3 separate regions of the Homo sapiens genome follow, and all the other regions are linked to region 2. Evidence: fine-mapped expression QTL. A gene starts in region 2. Each other region holds a variant in brackets. All regions are shown on one strand. Distances are from middle to middle.

Region 1 (5,217 bases), 70 kb before region 2:
CCCTGGGCAGCCCCCTCCCTGAGCACTCCTCCACCAGCCCTCAGTCCACAGCTGGGAAAACTGAGGCCTCTAATCTGGGGGCTACTCAGGCACATGGTTGGAGTTCAGTTATCTGTGTGTCCCCCAGGCCTGGCACAGAGCCCCGCACTGGGGTGGACTCTGCAGTGGGAGATGGTGGATGGGTTCAGCACAGAGCCCAGCGCTGGGGTGGACTCTGCAGTGGGAGATGGTGGGTGGGTTCAGCACAGAGCCCAGCGCTGGGGTGGACTCTGCAGTGGGAGATGGTGGGTGGGTTCAGCTGTGCTGGAATCTTGCTCCACCACAGCATGCTGTGCAGCCTGGAGCAGGTCCCTCAACCTCTCTGAACCTCCATTTTCTCATTTGTAAAACCAGGAAGAATGAGGCCTATTTTTTAGGCTTGTAGTGAGAATTGACAAGACAACGTATGCAAAATAAATATCACAGTATAAGGTGGTTGCCATTCATTCATTCTATAAATATTGATTGAACACCTTTTTTTTTTTTTTTTTCAGATGGAGTTTCACTCTTGTTGCCCAGGCTGGAGTGCAGCGGTGTGACCTCAGCTCACTGCAAACTCCGCCTCCTGAGTCCAAGCAATTCTCTTGCCTCAGCCTCCCAAGTAGCTGGGATTACAGGCGTGTGCTACCACGCCTGGCTAATTTTGTACTTTTTTTTTTTTTTTTTTAACTAGAGATGGGGTTTCACCACCTTGGTCAGGCTGGTCTCAAACTCCTGACCTCAGGTGATCTGCCTGCTTCGGCCTCCCAAAGTGCTGCGATTACAAGCGTGAGCCACTGTGCCCGGCCTGATTGAACACCTATTATGTCTCATTATTATTAAGTTCAAAAGAAAAGAAGCCAATTCAGCAGACCCCAGATTCTGACCTCCCATCCTATGCTGTTTCCTGGTGCATCCTCCACTCCTAATCCACACGGAGGCGTCACCCTAAATTACCCGGCTGCACATATCACTACCCTGGTCAAAAGCCCCCAGCAGTTCCCCGGTGCCTAGGGTGTCAGCTCCCGACTCCTGGCAGTGACACTGAAGACCCTCTGTGATCTGGTTCCAGCCTCTTTTCCATGGGATCTCTCTATCTTGTGACACCAACTTTGACTACAGGTGTGCAGATCTGGGTCCCGTGGCCAGAACACCCTGGGCTTTCTCACTGCCACGCCTGTGCTCCTGCTATGCCCTTGAGTGGAACAGCTACCATTTTTGTCCTTACCCAACAAAGTCCCGTCCGCATTTTCTGGCCCATTTCCCCCAGGTGGCCTCTCTGACCACCTGGAGCCAGGCTCTGAACCTCAGTCAGCCTCCTCGCCTAAGCATCCCGTTCCCCACTCCCCAACCGGGCCCTGCAAGGCCAGCTCTATCACCAATCATTGGCAGGAACCACTGGGCTAACAGCAGGTGCTGGACCGATCCACATGACAGGGGATGGCCTGACCTGCCCGTGTGATCAGAGTCCAGCTCTGCCACTGTCCCACGGGGATCATTCTTATCCGTCACATTCCTAAATGGACTAGAATGGTGGCCTCCTCTGCCCTGGGACCCTACTCTCTCCAGGCAATGGAGAAAGAGCCAGGGGTCCCCCCACCACTAACTGCCCCACTGACACTGTGGGGTCTCTTCCCATAGTCACGGTGCAGGCATCAACCAGATACCAGACTAAATGGGATTATCCAGACAGGACCACTGGGCCAGAGCCTTCTGCTGGAGGGAGGGAGCTTTGCTCCTCCCCTACACCCTCCCTGTTCCAGGGCTCAGTCCCTTCCACAAGGTCCCACCAAGCCTTCACAAGCCTGCCCCGTCTAGCGATGGGGAGCCCCATACCCCCTGGGGCATCTTGTCCATCTCTGATAGTTAGTTCAGAGCTGAGCTAGCTGCCTCCACGGAATTTCTGCCCCATTCATTCATCCTCTGTGAGTTCCTTCTGCACGCATTGAGCACCTACTGGGTGCTAGTTGATGTGCCAGCTCGCCTGAGCTTTGCAACACCTCTGTGAGGTGTGAAGGC[G/A]GATGCTGATGACAGTGATGGTTACAAAACCAATGAGGAAAGTGAGGTGCAAAACCAATGAGGAAAGTGAGGTGCAAGAGAGATCGCCACCCACACAGAATCTCACAATCATCAGGCAGCGGCTGGGCCAGGAGTAGATTTTCCATCTGGGTGACCCAGGAGCCTGTGCTCTTTCTTCCACTGAACTGAATACGTCCCCTAGCAGGACTTAGGAGGGGTAATACTTGGGGAGGTGGGGGCAGGACTAGCCTATCCAGTCCCCCAAAGCCTTCAGTAGAGGGCATAGAGCTGGACCTGCGTTGGGGTTACCAAGGGTAGCCAAGGGTAGTTTTGGAGCTGCTGCAGCCGCTGCTCACCCCCGGGAGCCTCCTTCTGAGAAGGAAGTATTATTGAGCCTACATTGTGTTGGGAGGGAAAACGTGGGGTCCTTGGAGCCCTGCCAGCCCCCTGCCTTCAGGCTGTTTGGCTTTGTTTGTTTTTTTGGTCTTTTTTTTTTTTCCTTTTTCTTTGGGCTGATTGTTCTCATTAAATCTTTTTGTCCTGTTTTGTTTTTTACGGGGCTGACAATGCTGCTCAGTGCTTAGCGCGGCTTCCTGTGTTTCTGCCCCAGCGCAGGCCTCGATGGGGCTGTGCTTCCTGTTGTGAGCCGTCGCCATGGCAACTGGAGGCCTGGTGGGCTCCATGGGGGTATGGGGAGGGGTGACATCAGTGACGTCACCGGGTGAGAAGGCAAGGGGCAGGGGTCTGGAGGGGGTTGCATGGGGGAAGGGCAGCCAGCAGCCAGCCGGCGCATTGCTGGGAGCTGACTCACAGCCCGGGAAGGGGAAGAATGCCCTCACATTCTTTTGGGAGGTAAACAAGGTCAGGGAATGCGGCTGGGATCCTGTTTACCTGACCCTGGCCCCCCGGGGGACCCGAAGCCCTTACAGGACAACACACTGGAATAGAACCAGCCAGACTTGGGGGGCTAGGGAAGCAGGGGAGAAGAGAGGAACCGTGAGGGGCCCCCAGGTGGGGGCCAGAGACAGAAAGCCCAGGATTCCAATCACATCTCCACTAGGTGACAGCGTGACAGCTCTATGACTCTGAGCAAGCCACATGGCCTCCCTGTGCCTCAGTTTCCCCTATTTCTAAATGGGGAGAATTTCTCGTGCAGATGGTCCCTTGGTCTCCAATCACTTTGGGCTGGTTTCGGGGGTTGCGAGGGTGGCAGCACAGCCCGTGCCTCTGCATTTTCTCCGTTCTCCACCCGCCCAAGGCCTGATCCAAGGCTAGGGTCTCCACGTCTCTGCCTGCACCTGACCCTGCTAGGGTAATGCCCCAGACCTGTAGCCAAACCAAAGGGCCGAGGTGGGCTGGCCTCGAAGGGAGGTGATGGGCGTGCAGCCCAGGGCGGGGCGCGGCACCTCTAGGATCCCAGGGCTGGAGTTGGTGCAGCTAGCCCCGCTCTCTCCCCTACCCTGTGTCCCCCCTTCAGCTTTCTCAGAGCCCCACCTCTTATCCCTGAACCTCCAGAGTGACGGCCTCCCCTGCTCATTAGGGAGGGTCCAGAGGAGCCCCTCCTGGTGCCAATGGTCTGTATCCTGATCAAACTCTGGGATTCCATGGTGCTGAGATCTGCAAGAACAGCCCCGGGGGCAGGGCCGGACTCTGCATCTCTAAGACAAACCTTTGCCACCTTTGAAACTGACCAGCTGGGAACAACGTGCCCTTCCCCCACAGGTGCCATGTGAGGGCACAGGCCATGCCCCCATGGCCACAGTTGAGTTGGGGCCACCTGGCCTATGGCTGAGAGTCTGGGTATCAGAGTCTGACTGGCTTTGCGGCTTGCTAGCTAGGGCCTTCGGTCAAGCTCCTTAGCCTCTGTGAGCCTCAGTTTCCTGATCTGCAAAGCAGAAGCTCCCAGGGTTGATGTGAGACTGAGTGAGTTAATTCACATGAAGCCCTTAGCGCATAGTAGGCCCTCATATGTGCTGAACCCACACAGAGCCAGCCCCCACAGACCCCTGCATCCTCCGCAGCAGCACCCAATGCCCCCGTCTCTGAGGGCTCCCCTATGCTGAACACCCGTCCCAGTGCAGGAACAGTGCCCACCAGATGCCCCATGGTTTTCCCATAAAGGGACCGGACTTGGGTTTCCCTGGACAGGGAATATCCTGTTCTGGGCTGGCGGGGGGGAGGAAGAGGAGCGGGAAGGACACGGCGGCTCCGCATTCCTGGCATTCTTGGCGGCCGCCCTGTCCAGCTGCCTCGGCGCTGCCGGGGGCCCTGGCCTACTGCCATGCTGGCCCGACACGGCACAGCAGCACCCCGCTTGGGGCGCCCCTTGGACTTGGGGTGATAGAGGACCCATCTTGTGCCAGTCCCACCCATCCCAGACTATCGCAGAAGCAAATGAACCCCAACCCTGGAAGCAGAGATTCGGGGGCTCTGGGAGGAGTCAGTTAACAGGGGAGGAGTTTCTGCTTTCAGTTCTACCTTATGGGGCTCCCTAGCCCACCTACCGTTCCCCAGGGAAGCTCTCGGGGTCAGAGCCGGAAGAGGGGAGAGGTAGAAGACTCCTGGGTTCTAGTCTCCAGTGCCCAGACAGCCACTTCCCCTCTCTGGGACTCAGTATCTCTGTCTGCAAGATGGGAGACTTTGATCCCTTCCTTGGGCAACCCCAGCATTGCTGCCCTTGTCACGCTCTATGGCATCATCACTGCCTCTCTGCAGAGCCTGTGCCTCTGGCTAAGGGCAGGAGCCCATCCCTTCTCCGCACTGGGCCGGGCCTGGTGGGATATAGTGGTTCCCACCGCCACGCAGCCATGGTATGCAGGATTCGAACATTCAGAGGGGAGGGCCTGGGGGCGGTCAGGCTCTGGAGCCCTCACCCTGGGAGTGCCTTTGGGGTCCTAGGAGGAAAGGGGTCCTTGTCCAAGATCCCACAGCTAGCTCGGTCAAGCTGACCCGGGAATCCGGGGACTTGCTGTTCTGCAAAACCACCAGAAACTAGGGTAATTCTTTTCCATGTTTTTCTGCAAACGCCCCCTAGTTTCAGGCCCAGAGCAGTCTGGGGAGAAGCTGGGAGCTGGAGGCTTCAGAGACCTCCACTCTGCAGGAGACCAAGCCCGCTCCCCATGCTGCCCTCTGCCCTTGGGGAGCCTGGAGGGGTCTTCCAGGGCCGGGAGGGGACAGGCA
Region 2 (5,217 bases):
AGGGCCCACGGAGGGCCCACCTGTTGCGCGGGGGCGAGCACCAGGCGCTGGGTGCACGGGGGCCCGTGCGTGCCTGTGTACGTGCGTGGGTGTGCGCGCACGTGTGCTCAGGCCGCGCGTGCAGGGGCCGTGCGTGCGTTTGTGTGCGGTGCGCGCGCGTGTGTCCCGCGTGTGCACGGGCGTGGCAGAGGCGGGCGCGCGACCTGGCCGCGGTAGTGCGTGCCCGTCGCTCTGCGCGCCCGCCCGCCGGAGCGCAGCATCGCCTCCGGCCAGGAGTGTGCATGCGTGGGGTGAGTGAGCGAGTCGGGGGCCCGGGCGGGGTGGGCTGCGGAGAGCAGCCACGGGGCGCCGCCGTTCCCAGGACGCCCTGGCACCGGGCCCAGCCCCCAGGTCCCACGGCGAGGCGAGGCGGCAGCTGGGGCCGGCCGGCCACCCCCTCCCCAACAGCTGGCCGCGGCCCGGGGGGCTGCGGGAGAGGCGGAGAGGGGGCGTCGGGAGGGGCCTGAAGGCGGCCCGGCCGAGCCCCGCGTCCTCCCTCCCGGGTGCGGGCCGCGGGGGGCGGCCGCGGAAGGGCGGGGCCCCCGGGCGGGCGGCCTGCGGCCCTCGAGGAGCCCCGAGAACAAAAGGAGACGGCGACGGCTCCTCCGTGGTCAAAACAACCTGCGCTGGCGGCAGCCCAAGGCCGGGCCGCGGCCTCCGAGCCCTCCGCCTTAACCCCTTCGCCGCCGCTGCCTCCTTCCTGCGCCTGGCTGGAGGCCGCAGGGGCCGACCCTCCCCGGGAGCCGGCGAGGTGCGGGCGAGGTGCGGACTCCCGGCCGCAGCCGGGCGGAGGTGGGACGGTACCCAGTCACGCCGCGCTCCCGGCTGCCCTCTCCTCCCCTCCACCGCGCGCGTCGTCCTGCCCCGCCCCCTTTCCCACCTGGATTCCGGGTAGACTTGCCAACTCACGGCTACGTGAGGCTGGGAGGGGTGGGGACGGCTCCGACCCCAGCGCTCCCTCAGATGTTTTTATACCCCATCTCCCGTGCAGCTAGGCTTTTGCAGGCGGCGCGCTCCGCACCCTGCATGCGGGGGAGAGAGGTGCTTCCTCCTGCAGGGCGCGGGCACAGGTACGGCAAGGCCTCAGGCACACAGCGCCCCGGGGGCTGGATTCCTTCAGAGCCCCTAGTCCTCCCCCTACCCGAGTGCCCGAAACCTACCTGCGTCTCTATCTTTCTCTCCCTCTCTCTCTCCGTCTCTCTCTCCGTCTCTCTCTCTCTCTCTCTCTTTCTCTCTCTCTCTCTCTCTCTCCCTGTTACTCCCACCCCAAACCCCGCGCCCGAGACACAAGCTGCTTCCAGACCGTGCTCTGGGGCCGGGCATGCCCTGCGCGTGCCGGAGGGCGTCCACCCGGACCCCGACCGGGAGCCAGGGTGGGACCCGAGCCCCGTCAAAGGTCGGCGTGGATGGCACCGGTGCGCAAGCTTGCACCTCCTGGGCAAGCCGATGGCAGGACAGAGCCTAAGCCGAGGCTGGCGCCGAAGTGGGCTCGGGAGGACGCGCTGCCTTCTGCACCCTGGGCACCACCCCACCCCCTCTCCCCCGGCCGGGAAGGGGCTTGTTCTCGGGTTCCCAAAGGGTGGGGGACAGGGCCACACACACCCTCCCCCGACACGGAACGGCTTAGGGAGCCAGATTCGCCCGCCGGTTGGAAAGAAAGCCACCGCTGTTGCCTTCCCTTAGAGCCTGTCACCCCCGGACCTCGCTCCCAGCCCGAAGAGGTCACCCAGCGCCCGGCGTCAGGCTCGCGGGCTGCAAGGGTCCAAAGTTCACTGCAGGGAGAGGAGGGGGCGGTCAGAAGGGGGGGGCGAAGGTAATGAATGAAGAACCAGCCCCAGCCGCCGTGGCAACTCACCTCGGCGCTGACCAGACGCAGGTAGCAGCAGAGAGACAGGAAGAGCGCCCAGCAGCGATTCATGCCGACTCCGGGCCCGGCCCCGCGGGGCCCCGGACGCGTAGATCGAGCGCGCCGCCCCCGCGGCCAGGGTGGGGGGCTGGGGAGGGGGGTGGGCTCGGCTCGGGTCCGCGGCGATCAGGCGCTCAGGCCTCTGCAGCCGCGGCTCACCCGCATGGCCCCCGGGCGCCGCCGCCCCCGGCCCCGGCTCCGTCGCTGGGGGGCAGGGGAGGACCTGGGCGCAGGACCTGGGTCCGAGGCCGCTACCTGGGCGGATCCCGAGCCCGAGTGAGCATCCACGGCCGGGGGGCTGCGTCGCGAACCAGCCGAGGCGTCTAGCCGTGTGGGGGCGCCCAGGGGACTCCAACCTCCAAGAGGAAAAGGAACACGGCAGTCGATGGTTCGTCTTCACTCGCCGGCTACAGGCGTTTTCCTCTGCCCGCCGGCTTAGCTTTTTTGCAACATTTTCTGGAAAGGCCCCCAAAATCGGAAAGCGCGGAGCTGGGCACCTCAAGGCCCAAGTCTCCCCCAAAAAACTTTTTCCAAAGTTGGCTTTGCAACGGCAGCTCGAGCACCCGGGCAGGGAGAGGTGCAAACTCCCGCCCGGGCCGGGTAGGGGGGCGGGAGCGTGTGCGCCCTGGCGCGGGGCCCGGGCGGCGGGCACGGCTGCTCCGCGCGCGCGGCGTGCCCGCTGCGCGCTCGGCTGGGCCCGGCCGACAGGTGGACGCGGCGCGAGTCCGTCGGTCCGTCTGCCCGCCCGCTCGCCGCTCTGGGCGTCCTCTGCGGGCTGCGGGCTGCGAGCTGCGAGCTGCGAGCTGCGGCTGCTCCGGTTTTCTCTTTGCAGCGAGGCTGGAGGGTGGGCTTTTTTTTTTTTTTTTCCTTTTTGCGCGCGTATGTATGTGTGTGCGCGCAAAGTATCTCTATCTAGGGAATGAAAAATGGGCGCTGGCGGCCGGAGGGGAGCCCTAGGGAGGCAGCGGGGGAGGCTGCGGGTGCGCAGGGAGGCAGGCAGGCCGCTCCCGGCTGCAGGAGGAGAAGTTGCCACCCTTTCAGCTGTTCCGGCCTTTATAAAGGAGAAGGGAGAGTGCGAGAGGTGGGTGGAGACAGCCTTTCCTCTTCTGGCCCGGAGTCAGCGCCAGGAGGGGGGGGACGCGGGAGCTGGGGGAGGGCTTGGGGCCAGGGCGGGGCGCTTAGGGGGTCTCTGAGAGCCGAGCAACCCTTCAGTCCATGAATCTGGCCCTGGGGAAAAAAGAACTAGGGGTGACCCACCGTCCCGCCCCTCAGCACAGTGACCATGGACAGGTTAGGAGCCCACGTGGTCTAGGGGGATGTCTCCAGAGCCAAGGCCAGGAGTCCACGCTCCCCTCCAGGACCAGACATTTCCACCCTGGCACAGGCATGGCAGGGAGGGACTCAGGCTCTGCAGTCTGAGAGCCTGAATTCAGATCCTGCCCTGGCACTCGGGAGCTTGGGTCACCTTGGGCAAGTCACTTCCCTCTGTCCCCTCCATCTAGCCTCAACCTGGAGATGGGGCTATTGTAAGGACTCAGTGTTAGCAAGGGAAGACACCGCAAGGTGAACCCACAGAACCCGGCAGCCAGCGCCCTTCAGCTGCAAGCTGGGTCCGAGTCTCCTCCTCCTAGCTGGTTGCCTGGCACAACAGGCCCTGCCAGCGTTGGCTGAATTTGAATTTGTTGAACTGCAAAGTCACACAAACCCCCACAGCCCTGCAGCATCTTCGCAGGGCTACCAACATGATCTTCCCGTCAGTCACCCTGCTGTTTACTATCTCCCTCAGCCCCCGGGTTCGAGGCCCAGAGCCCACCCACCCACAACCAGCCTTCACACAGTTAACGCCTTCTGCCCCCAGTCAGGGAGCTGCTGTGTCCCTGCCTTCAGCAGTCACACTGTCTCAGTCACAGTCACACGTACTCACACTGGGCCCAGCACCCCCCTCGGGACACGCAGGCTCCTGCATCACCCAGCCTCCCGGCTTTGAGGCACCCTCATCTCCTCCGCTTGCACTGTCTCTGTTATCCGCCCTTCCCTTTGGGATGTCAGCCTGCTTCTCACAGAGGAGCACACTGAGAGAGTCACACCTGCTCTCTCTTCATAGACTGTCTTCTTGGACCTGGACAGGGTGGAACAGAGGAGGAAGGACATCTCAGGTGGTCTTTACAGACCACTGCAGGCACCCACCCACTGCTGCCTACCACCCAGCAGCGTGGCACAGTGGCAGAGACACAGCCTGAAGACACATCACCTTGGTCCAAATCCTGGAGTGGCCACTTGCTGGACAAGTGTCTGCAGGAAGGTTTTTTAACCTCTCAGTACCTCGGTTTCCTCCTTTATAAACTGGAGATGAATTTATAAACTGGAGCTGGGTGTGGTAACAAGCTCCTGTAGTCCCAGCTACTCAGGAGACTGTGGATCGTTTTGAGCCCAGGAGTTTGAGGCTGCAGTGAGTTGTGACTGTGCCACTGCACTCCAGCCTGGGCAACAGAGCAAGACCCTATCTCTAAAGAAATAAAAATAAATCTATAATGGGAAGGAGTGAGAGAGAACAGAGAGGCATGGCAAAATTTTAGTGGTGATGGAAATGTTTGTCATTTTTGATTGTGGTGATGGGCTTATGGGTGTATACGTACATCACAACAAAATGTGTGCAGTTTGTTGTACCTCAGTGCAGTTGTAGAGAATTTTTACCCTGCTCCTGGAGTGGTCTGGAGGCTCCCATGAGGTCCTCCATGTGGAGGCGCTCAGCAAAACACCTTAGCAGGAAGCAAGCGCCTGGAACCTTCCATGCAGCCTTCAAGTTCACTGGTGGCCCCGCACTGCTCCAGGCACTGGGGAGACAGGTGTGAACCAGCCTAATGCAGGCCCCTGCCTTTGAAGAGCCCCATTGAGAAGGACAACCAGATGTATAAACAGATAAATTAGGAGACAGGGTGACAAGGGAGATGGGGCAGCGGGACGAGGAGATAACCCCCAAACACTAGATTTGAAGTCTAACGACTCAGAGATAAAAACCCTCTTCCACCGGACAGCTGGGTCATTTGACCTTGACCTTCTGTGTCTTCTATAAATAGAATGGTAACAACTACCATGATTAGTGAGCTGACTATGTGGTAGCTAGTGTTTTTCTTACTCTACCTGTAGCCTCTCCATGCTCCTGTGAGATGTGTTATTCCTATCTTACAGATGGGGAAATGGAAGCACAGAGAGGCCAATACACTTGTTCAAGGTCACACAGCCCGTAAGTGGTAAGGCCAGGACTTGAATCT
Region 3 (5,217 bases), 33 kb before region 2:
GTCTATGGGGACAGATGTCTCTGCCTTCATTTTCTTTCTTTCTTTCTTTCTTTTTTTTTTTTTTTTGAGACAAGAGTCTCACTCTCTGGCCCAGGCTGGAGTGCAGTGGTGCAATCTTGGCTCACTGCAACCTCCACCTCCCGGGTTCAAGTGATTCTCCTGCTTCAGCCTCCTGAGTAGCTGGGATTACAAGCGTGTGCCACCATGCCTGGCTAATTTTTGTATTTTTAGTAGAGACGGGGTTTCACCATGTTGGCCAGGCTGGTCTCGAACTCCTGGTCTCAAATGATCCACCTGCCTCAGCCTCCCAAAGTGCTGGGATTACAGGCGTGAGCCACCTCACCCACCCTACTTTCATCTTCTAGATGGTGGGAAGCTCAGAGAGTTGTAAAAGCCAGGTAAAAGCAAACATTTACTCGGCTGTGTGGCAGTGAATTCTATAGGAATGTGTTTGGTGTCAGGTCAAAGAAAAATCCAATTTATAGTGGTTTAGGGAAGAAAAATAGGCGTTAATCTTTCTTCCATAACAAGAAATCAGGAGGCAGTAACGCTTGCCTTGATGATGGCAGGGCTGGATTTCCTGCAATCTCTTTGTCATCCTTATCATCTCATTACTACAGAATGGCTGCTGACCCGCCAACTGTCACATCTGCATTCAAGGCAGGAAGAAGGGAAACAAGGAAAGGGCAGTCTCCCTGGAAGTCTCTGTCTTCTGATGAGGATGAGTCCCCACTGTCACCCTCCCTGCACACCCCACAGACTTCCTCTCATGTCTCATTAGCCAGAGTGCCGTTATATGGCCACACTCAGACCCACCATCGGTCCAGGAGAATCAGATGCCCAGGACTGATGAGACCAGCCTCTGGCACTGAGATCGCAGCATTTCAGCTGGTTCCATAAGCAGACCAGGGCTCTGTTTAGCAAGAGAAATAAGGAGGGATGGCTGCTGGGCAGGGTCTGCCCTCCCAAAAATTGCCACAGGAAGCAGTTCCCAGGCATAGTCCCATTTGATCCTCACACAATCTCATAAAGCTGAGACGATTCTCTGCCAATTTAGCAGACAAGGAGACAAAGCTAGCAAACAGCAGAGCTGGCACCTAGACCCAAACCTGGGTTCCTCACCACTCTGCCGCCTGCAGGTCACCAGAGGCCTCAAATGCACGGGGCTGCTGCCGGGTGTCAGTTACATCCGCCTCACCTGCACCTGCCGTCTCTTGGCTCTGAGTGTGCAGGTCAGGGTACTTGAGTGCCCAGGTACTGACAGGTGACTGCACCATGCAGAGCTCCATGTGGCCGCTGTGCACTGGAGAGCTTTGCCCAGAGCTATGGGCTGAGCCCCTGCCATTGGTTCCTTCATCCGTCCAGCGTCTGCAGGCCCCAGGCACCAAGGCAGGCCTTAGGAGGCACAGGCGCAGATCCTGACCTCAAAGACAGACTTTGGCACCCAGTGCCTTCCTAATTCAAGGAGATCTTGGGTAGAATGTTTGAATGCATTCAGAGAAGAAAAACCTCACTTCTGGCCAGAGAGCTGCAGGAGCAGGTTTTTTTTTTTCTTATTTCTTTCCCCAACTTTTTATTGTATTTTTGTTTGTTTGTTTGTTTGAGATAGCGTCTCACTCTATTGCCCAGGCTGGAGTGCAGTGACATGATCTCGGCTCACTGCAACCTCCACCTTCCAGGTTCAAGCAGTTCTCCTGCCTCAGCCTCCCGAGTAGCTGGGACTACAGGTGCCCACCACCATGCCCGGCTCATTTTTGTATTTTTAGTAGAGACAGGGTTTCGCCACGTTTCCCTGGCTGGTCTTGAACTCCTGAACTCAAGTGATCTGCCTGCCTCGGCCTCCCAAAATGCAGGGATTACAGACGTGAGCCACTGCGCCTGCACTTACTGTGTTAAAATACACATAACAAAAAATTTACCATTGTAAGCCAGGTGCAGTGACTCATGCCTGTAATCCCAGCACTTTGGGAGGCTGAGGCAGGCAGATCACAAGGTCAGGAGTTCGAGACCAGCCTAGCCAATATGGTGAAACCTTGTCTCTATGAAAAATACAAAAATTAGACGGGTGGTGGCGTGTGCCTGTAGTCCCAGCTACTCGGGAGGCTGAGGCAGAAATATTGCTTGAACCCGGGAGATGGAGGTTACAGTGAGTCGAGATTGGGCCACTGCACTCCAGCCTGGGCGACAGAGGGAGACTCTGTCTAAAAAAAAAAAAAAATGTGCCATTGTAACTGTTTTAAGTGTACAGTTCGTAGTATTAAGTACATTCATAATGTTGCGTGACCATCGCCCCCATTGTCTCCAGAACTATTTTCATTTTGTAAAACTGAAACTCTGTATCCATTAAACGCTAACTCCGCAATCCCCCCTCCCAGCCTCTGGCAACCACCATTCTACTTTTTGTCTCTATAATTTTGACTAATCTAATTATATCATATGATGGAATCATACAGCACTGGCACTTTTGTGAATGGCTTCTTTCACTTAGCAGAATGTCCTTAAGGTTCTTCCATGTTGCAGCATATCCCAGGATTTCCTTCCTTTTGAAGGTTAAATAATATTCCATTGTACGTTGATATAGTTTGGATGTTTGTTCCCTCTAAAATCATGTGGAAATGTAGGCTGGGTGTGGTGGCTCATGCCTTTAATCCCAGCACTTTGGGAGGCCGAGGCAGGCGGATCACTTGAGGTCAGGAGTTCGAGACCTGCCTGGCCAACATGGTGAAACCCTGTCTCTACTAAAAATACACAAGAAAGTAGCCGGACACAGTGGCAGGCGCCTGTAGTCCCAGCTACTAGGGAGGCTGAGGCAGGAGAATGGTGTGAACCCAGGAGGTGGAGATTACAGTGAGCCGAGATC[G/A]CGCCACTGCACTCCAGCCTGGGCGACACAGCAAGACTGGGCAACAGAGCAAGCCTCCTTCTCAAAAGAAAAAAAAATTTTAAAAAAGTCTGTGGCGGCCGGGCGCGGTGGCTCACGCCTGTAATCCCAGCACTTTGGGAGGCCGAGGCGGGTGGATCACGAGGTCAGGAGATCGAGACCATCCTGGCTAACAAGGTGAAACCCGTCTCTACTAAAAATACAAAAAATTAGCCGGGCGCGGTGGCGGGCGCCTGTAGTCCCAGCTACTCGGGAGGCTGAGGCAGGAGAATGGCGTGAACCCGGGAAGCGGAGCTTGCAGTGAGCCAAGATTGCGCCACTGCAGTCCGCAGTCCGGCCTGGGCGACAGAGCGAGACTCCGTCTCAAAAAAAAAAAAAAAAAAAAAAAAGTCTGTGGCACCCCTGCCCCCCACTCTCTCGTGCTTCTGCTCTCACCATGCGACATGCCTGCTCCGCCTTTGCCTTCCGCCGTTATTGTAACGTCCGTAAGGCCTCACCAGGAGCAGACACTGGCGCCATGCTGGTACAGCCTGCAGAACTGTGAGCCAATGAAACCTCATCTTTATAAATTGCCCAGCCTCTGGTATTTCTTTCTAGCAATACCAAAATGGAATATCGCTCTGTCACCCAGGCTGGAGTGCAGTGGCGCGATCTTGGCTCGCTGCAACCTCCACCTCCCAAGTTCAAGTGGTTCTCCTGCCTCAGCCTGTCGAGTAGCTGGAATTACAGGTGGCCGCCACCACGCCCGGCTAATTTTTGTATTTTTAGTGGAGACAGGGTTTCACTCTGTTGGCCAGGCTGAACAACAGAGAGTTGGCTGGCCAACTCTCGAACTCCTGACCTCAGGTGATCCGCCTGCCTCAACCTCCCAAAGTGCTGGGAGCACAGGCGTGAACCACCGTGCCCGGCCATGCTTCCACCTTTTGGCTATTGTGAATCATTCCACTGTGAACCTGGGTGTGCAAATATTTCTTCGAGACCCTGTTTTAAGTTCTTTGGGGTATCTACCCAGAAGTGGGATTGCTGGGTCATATCGTAATTCTGTGTGAATGTTTCTGGGGAACCACCCTGCTGTTTTCCACAGTGGCTATACCATTTTACATTCCTCCAGGGGCGGTTTTCTAGTGAATTTGAGGTTGACTTTGAAGATAGTCAGTGAAGTACAGATGTGGAGAAAGGCACGGCCTGGATATGGAGGAGGAGGGCAGGTGACAGGCGGGGAGGCTTGGGAGGAAGAAGCCTCCCTGGGCTGACCACAGAGGGTTCTGCATGCCTTGTTGGTGAGTGTGAGCCTCGCCTGGGGTCAGAAGTCATAGAAGGTTATGAGCAAGGGAGTGGCTTGACTACTCTGTGTCAAGAAGCCTAAGGGGGCAGCAGAGAGTGACGTGGCTCATGGTGGGATAGTCCGGGGTGAGGAGAAGGAACCCCAGAGGAGTTTCTCAATGGTTGGGTCAAAAGAGAGTGAGGACCCAAAACCAAGGCCACAGAAGGAAGAAGAAAGGACAGTGAACATGGAGCTGGGTCAGCAGGGCCCGGGCTGCGGTGAGGCAAGCCAGGCACACACCCGGAGCACAACATTTTAAAACAAGACAGGATCTGACAAAGCCAAGATTAGAGTGAGGCGAGCGAGGCATTGTGTAAGTGCTCGTTTCAACTCCTGTCTTGAAGTGAAATTTTGAAATTTTGGCTCATGGTAAATTTTTTTTCTTTCTTTCTTTTTTTTTTTTTTTTTTTTTTTTTTGAGTTGGAGTCTCGCTCACCCAGGCTTGAGTGCAGTGGTGCAATCTTAGCTCACTACAACCTCCGCCTCCCAGGTTCAAGCGATTCTCCTGCCTCAGCCTCTCAAGTAGCTGGGATTACAAGCGCCCGCCACCATGTCTGGCTAATTTTTGTGTTTTTAGTAGAGACGGGGTTTCACCATGTTGGCCAGACTGGTCTCAAATTCCTGACCTCAAGTATCTGCCCACCTCGGCCTCCCAAAGTGCTGGGATTACAGGCATGAGCCACCACTCCCGGACTGGCTCGTGGTGAACTTGTTTGCATTAATTTTGATTTCTTAAAATACTGCATGAGGCTGAGCGTGGTGGCTCACGCCTGTAATTCCAGCACTTCAGGGGGCTGAAGCAGGCAGATCATTGAGGTCAGGAGTTTGAGACCAGCCTGGCCAACATGGCAAAACCCTGTCTGTCCTAAAAATACAAAAATTAGCCAGGTGTGGTGGCATGTGCCTGTGGTCCCAGCTACGCAGGCAGCTGAAGCACAAGAATCACTTGAACCCAGGAGGCGAAGGTTGCAGTGAGCTGAGATCACGCTACTGCACTCCAGCTTGGGTGACAGAG

The links. PIP is the estimated chance that this variant, and not a neighbour inherited with it, causes the effect.
Region 1: its variant is fine-mapped to the expression of PDGFB in whole blood (TOPMed, PIP 0.96).
Region 3: its variant is fine-mapped to the expression of PDGFB in whole blood (TOPMed, PIP above 0.99).

What each region holds. Positions count from the first base shown.
Region 1 is chr22:39,172,103-39,177,319 of GRCh38, forward strand. No RefSeq gene overlaps it. Among named protein-coding and RNA genes, the nearest start is that of CBX7, 22 kb to the left of the region's middle. RefSeq lists enhancers at 1-401, 1,414-2,083, 4,082-4,376. The variant G/A (reference allele first, on the strand shown) is at 2,038.
Region 2 is chr22:39,242,007-39,247,223 of GRCh38, forward strand. PDGFB (platelet derived growth factor subunit B) reads right to left here and starts at 2,976. Exons shown (of 7, transcript NM_002608.4): 1 at 1,895-2,976. The coding sequence starts at 1,957. RefSeq lists a silencer at 1,031-1,110.
Region 3 is chr22:39,208,707-39,213,923 of GRCh38, forward strand. No RefSeq gene overlaps it. Among named protein-coding and RNA genes, the nearest start is that of PDGFB, 34 kb to the right of the region's middle. RefSeq lists enhancers at 673-1,173, 4,356-4,975, 4,976-5,217. The variant G/A (reference allele first, on the strand shown) is at 2,861.